Regions from separate parts of the Homo sapiens genome. Here region 2 is linked to region 1. Evidence: fine-mapped expression QTL. A gene starts in region 1. The other region holds a variant in brackets. All regions are shown on one strand. Distances are between the middles of the regions. Region 1 holds the start of ZFR2 (zinc finger RNA binding protein 2). Region 2 overlaps ZFR2 (zinc finger RNA binding protein 2).

Evidence for each region. PIP is the estimated chance that this variant, and not a neighbour inherited with it, causes the effect. A credible set is the group of variants that fine-mapping cannot tell apart.
Region 2: its variant is the best candidate, but not a certain one, in a credible set for the expression of ZFR2 in nasal epithelium (TOPMed, PIP 0.83).

The regions. Positions count from the first base shown.
Region 1 is chr19:3,867,775-3,870,655 of GRCh38, forward strand. ZFR2 (zinc finger RNA binding protein 2) reads right to left here and starts at 1,264. Exons shown (of 19, transcript NM_015174.2): 1 at 1,191-1,264. The coding sequence starts at 1,243.
Region 2 is chr19:3,804,081-3,806,914 of GRCh38, forward strand. ZFR2 (zinc finger RNA binding protein 2) reads right to left here. Exons shown (of 19, transcript NM_015174.2): 19 at 1-2,045. The coding sequence ends at 1,869. Among named protein-coding and RNA genes, the nearest start is that of MATK, 19 kb to the left of the region's middle. The variant T/C (reference allele first, on the strand shown) is at 1,715.

The DNA of each region.
Region 1 (2,881 bases):
AGTTCCCCACCAACCTCGGTTTCCGCCCCTCCCTGGGGTAACCTCCCAGGTCTCTGTCTTCTCTCCTCCACCCCACATCAGGGGTCAGGTTCCCACCCCTACTCCACACCCCACCCCAGGTCTCTGCCCCTGCCTGCTAGGTACCCTCCCAGGTCTCTGCCTTCTCTCCTACCCCCACCATCAGGGGTCAGTGCCCTCCACACTCGAATGTTGCTGCCCCCTGCCCAGTCGGGAAACTTCCCAGGTCTCTGCCTTCTCCTCCTCCAGCAATCGGGGATTAACGCCCCTCTGCCCTTCCCCTCCTCCTGCCCAGCCAGACACCCTCCCAGGTCTGAATTCTCTCCCCCTACCAGCAATCGGGGTCAGCTCCGCTCTAGCTCTCCCCCTGTCCAGCCAGACACCCTCCCAGGTTTCTGTCTTCTCTCTTACCCCCATCAGGGGCCAATTCCTCACCCCTCGACTGTGGCTTCCTCCTGCCCAGCCAGGAACCCTCGCTGATCTCTGTTTTCTCCTCCCCTACAAGTAATCGGGGGTCAGCTACCCTCTGTCCATCCCCCTGCCCGGCCAGGCACCCTCCCAGGTCTGTGTCTTCTCCTCCCCCCGCAATCGGGGGTCAATGCCCCTCTGCCCTTCCCCTCCTCCTGCCCAGCCAGACACCCTCCTAGGTCTGTGTCTTCTCTTCCCCTACCAGCAATCAGGGGTCAGCTCCCCTCTGCCCATCCCCACCCACTCCCCGGCCAGGCACCTCCCAGGTCTCCTCCCTGCATTGGGTCAGTTCCGTCCCCTCCCCTCCTCGGTCAGACCACCCACCCCCCGCCCGGGTCTGTCCCCTCTCGCTGCCCTCCTCGTGGCGCCCCCATCAGGGGCTGACCCCCCCGACCCCGCACAGGCCCAGGCCCAAACCCAGGCCCCCTCCCACTTCAGGAGCCCCCTCCCGCTCCCGCCGACAGACACCGTTGGCTGCAGAGACGTCTCAGCCGGAGCCCCGGAGCCCGCATCCCGCCCGGTGCCTAACCTGAGGCCGCCCCGCCTGCTTCTCCCGGCGCCGCGGCTTCCCTCAGGCCGGGGTTCCAGGTTGGGGCTGGGACTGGGGCCGGGCCGGGCGCACGCGGCGGGAGAAGGGGTAGGCGGGGTCCCGGCCAGGCTGCAGGGGCCGGGACTGGCGGGGGCTGGCGCGGCGGGGCAGTTACCTGTACTGCGGGCCGCCGCCCTGCGCGAAGTCGAAATACTGACTCGTCGCCATCTTGGCGTCTTCCCCGAGCCTGGCGGACCCGCGACGTCACCCGCCCCGCCCCCGAGCCGCGTGCCGCTCGCGCCTGGCCACGCGCCCCAAGCTCCGCCCCCTGCGCGAAGCCCTCACCTTCTCGCTTCCTTCTCTTAGGCTAGGGAGACACCGCCCCGCGACCACACCTGCCCCGAGGCCCCGCCTCCTACGCAGAGCCCCGCCCTCCTCTTAACCACTCAAATGTGGAGGTCTCTGCTCAAGCCCCGCCCATGCTAGAAGCCCTGCCTCTTTCTCGGAGCCCCACATTCCCTTTAACCACTCAGATGTGGTGGTATCTGATCAAGTCCCGCCCATGCTACAAGCCCCGCCTCTTACTCAGAGCCCTGCCTTCCCTTTACCCACTCAGATGTGATCTCTGCTCAACCCCCACCCATGCCACAAGCCCCGCCTTTTTTTGGAACCGTACCTTCCCTTTAACCATTCAGGTGTGGAGGTCTCTGCTCAAGCCCCACCCATGCCACAAGCCCCGCCTCTTTCTCGGAGCCCCGCCTTCCCTTTACCTGCTCAGATATGGTCTCTGCACAAGCCCTACCTCTGTCTCCGAGCCCCACCTTCTCTTTAACCACTCAGATGTGGAGGTCTCTGCTCAAGCCCCACCACCACCACAGCCAGCTAATTTTTAAATTTTTTGTAGAGACAGTGTCTTGCTATGTTGCCCAGGCTGATGTTGAACTCCTGGCCTCAAATAATCTTGCCTTGGCCTCCAAAAGTGCTGGGATTACAGACGTGAGCCACTGCATCTAGCCTCAGAATGACTCTTCAGAAGGCCCCCATGGTCTCTGCCTCCTGTGTTCACAACGTGATATAAATAAATGATAGGCCGGGCACAGTGGCTCACGTCTGTAATCCCAACATTTTGAGAGGCGGAGGCAGGAGGATCTTGAGCCCTAGGACTTTGAGACTAGCCTGGGCAACATAGCAAGACCCTGTTTCTACAATTTTTTTTTAATTAGCTGGTCATGGTGGTACATGCCTGTGGTCCCAGCTACTCAGGAGGCTAAGGTGGGAGGATCACTTGAGCCTGGGCTGTCAAGGCTGCAGTGATCTGTGACTGTACCACTGCACTCCAGAGTGAGACCCTGTCTCAAAAAAGAGAAAAGAAAGAAAGGGCTGGGCGTGGTGGCTCACGCCTGTAATCCCAGCACTTTGGGAAGGCGAGGTGGGCAGCTCACCCAAGGTCAGGAGTTCAAGAGCAGCCTAGCCAACATGGCAAAACCCTGTCTCTACTAAAAATACAAAAAAAAAAATTAGCCAGGCGTGGTGGGGCACACCTGTAATCCCAGCTACTCGGGAGGCTGAGGCAGGAGAATTACCTAACCCAGGAGGTGGAGGATGCAGCGAGCCGAGATCACACCACTGTACTCCAGCCTGGGCAACAGAGCAATACACCGTCTCAAAAAAATAAAAAAATAAAAAATAAAAAAATAAATAAATAAATAATAAAAGAGGAGAGGGAGAGGAGCAGGGAGGGAGGGAAGGGAAGGAAAGAAGAGAGAGAGAGAGAGAGAGAGAAAGAATTGAATGAATAAACAAATAAATGGAGGCAAACAGACAAATCTCTTATGCAGAAGAATTCCTAATTTGTGTAGCTACACT
Region 2 (2,834 bases), 64 kb before region 1:
CATTCAGACAGAGCCACATGCAGGCTGTCCTTCAAACACAGAGAAACAAAACTGAGCCACTGGCTGGAGATCACATCTGCCCAAAGGTGGACTTTTCTCATTCAATGCCACTGGGCAGCTGGCCAAAGAAAAAAAAACTGACCAAGCGGAAGGTTTGAACAGGTTGGGGTGGGGACTCAGAAGGGGGTGCCCCCACATCCATCAGTGCCAGGAGGCGCCTGCCCACCATGGCCAGCATCCACAAGACGGCGGCCCCTCCCCGGGTCCCCCAGGCACGGGTCCCGGGCCCTGCTACCACAAGGGGGGATTGGGGACCCCCTGCCTCAGGGCCAGCCAAGGCCTACATCAGGGAGAGAGGGAGGAAGGAAGGACGGAAGCTCAAATCCAGGCCTCAGTGACACATGGCAGAGTGGGTTTTCTCTGTGAAAGGCACTCAGTGGTACAGGGCTCGGGGCGGGGGGTGGGTGGGGGTGCCTCTGGGCTCCGGGTCTGACTGTCCAGCACAGCTGTTCCCGGGGGAGGCCCAGCCAGGATCCTCATCGCCCGTCGGCGTGTCCACCTGGCCCTGTGGCTCTCCCCACAGGGGACGAGCCTGGCTCAGGCCCTGCTGACATCCTGGCTGTGGAGGTGGGTGGGGGGTCTGTTTGGAGCAGGCTGGGCTGGGGGCGTGGGGATGCCGGCTGGGAGCTCCCCTGGGCTTGTCCTGCACATGTGGTGGGGCCCCAGAACAGGGCCTGCCCACGTGATTTCAAATCCATGCCGCAGCCGCATCCAAAGAAAGTTTTGTTTGTTTGTTTGTTTGTTTGTTTGTTTCTTTGAGACAGGGTCTCGCTCTGTAACCCAGGCTGGAGTTCAGTAGCGCAATCTCGGCTCGCTGCAGCCTCGAACTCCTGGGCTCAAGGGATCCTACGGCCTCAGCCTCCCGAGTAGCTGGGACTACAGGCTTGGGCCACCACAACTGGCTAATTTTTTGTAGAGATGGGGTGTCACCATATTGCCCAGACTGATCTTAAACCGCTGGGCTCAAGCGATCCACCAAGCTTGGCCTCCCAAAGTGCTGGGATTATAGGTGTGAGCCACCATGCGCAGCCCAGAGGAAGTATTTTAAAACCCCTTCCTGTACCACGAGGTGAGTTTAGAGCCAGCAAGATGCCCCCGAGTTTAGAATCTGCTTGCTGTACTGCTGGCCCCCCTGGCTGTGGGGGATGGGGCCCTCGAGGAAGGGGTGCCACTCCCAGGGCTGGATGGTGTCATTTCTGTAACAATTTAAGCACAAATGTTAAAAAACATTTCTTTTAAGTGACAAAGTCTTCTTCTGTTGCCCAGGCTGGAGTGTCACGGTGCAATCACAGCTCACTGCCCTCCTGGCCTCAAGGCTCCGGACTCAGCCTCCCAAGTAGCTGGGACTACAGGTGCACACCACCACGCCAGGCTAATTGTTGTGTTTTTTACTAGAGACAGGGTTTCACCATGTTGACCAGGCCGGTCTCGAACTCCTGACCTCAGGCGATCTGCCCACCTCGGCCTCTCAAAGTGCTGGGATTACAGGCGTGAATCACCGCGCCTGGCCACCAACCATGCCAAGCTGATTTTTAAAAATATTTTGGAGAGATGGGGGTCTCACTCTGTTGTCTGGGCTGGCCTTGAACTCTCAGGCTCAAGCAACTCAGCCTCCCAAAGTGCTGGGATTAAAGGCATGAGCCACAGTGCCCGG[T/C]CTGAAGCACAGGTGTTTTAAAGGAAACCTACAGAGCGTTACTCAAAAGGAAATGACCATTGTCCAACGTCGGGGATGAAGCAGCCATTGGTCGGCGCGCACACGTCCAGGAGTGCAGGGATGCAAAGGCCCGCAGGTGGGGGAGGTAGGCGGCTCACACGAGCCCCTCTCCGCCCCGCCGGCCCCGCTTCTTCTCCCCTGCGCCCTCCTCTCCCTCGCCAGGTCCCCGTTGCCTCTTCCGGAAGCGGGCCCCCAGCCGGTGTCTGGGCGGCAGGAGATCCATGCCCAGGACCTTGTGGGTCTGCCGGAAGGCCAGCATTCGCAGGGCGTGCTGCGGGGCACACACAGCCTGTCAGGACCCCCGCCCGCTCTGCTCCCCGAGTGCTGGGGACACAGAGGGGCTGGTGTCTGTGGCCACCAGCAGATGGGCCAGGCCTATCCTGTATCCCTCGAGATAGCCCCCGGCCCCCCGCCGCTTTCTTTTTTGAGACACAGTCTCGCTCTGTCACCCAGGCTGGAGTGCAGTGGCGCGATCTCAGCTCATTGCAACCACCGCCTCCCAGGTTCAAGTGATTCTCCTGCCTCAGCCTCCCAAGTAGCTGGGATTACAGGCGTGTGCCACCACGCCCAGCTAATTTTGTATTTTTAGTAGAGACAGGGTTTCACCATGTTGGCCAGGCTGGTCTCGAACTCCTGACCTTGTGATCCGCCCGCCTCGGCTTCCCAAAGTGCTGGGATGACAGGCGTGAGCCACCCGGCCCGGCCGACACCGCTTCTTACGACTGCGGAGCTTGGGTCACTGCAGGGCCTGAGGAATTTTCGCGTGGTGCCGGCTGACCACAAGGACTGTCCCAGGAGGCCCCCCCGCTCCACTGACCACCAGCTCTTTCCGCCTCACTGGAGGGACCCCACATCCTGCACTGCAAGCCATTCCAGTGATCCCATTCAAGGCAAAATTCAGAAACGTCAGACCCGATGCGGTTTGGTTTTGGTGCTGCTAGGAGATTTTTCTTATAAACAAATTTGCAAACAAGGTAACCACAGGTGAGGGCTGGGCAGGCGGAGCTGTCGGCCACGGCTGGGCTTCTAGGACCATGGTCAGTGGTGTGGGGGAGGACGG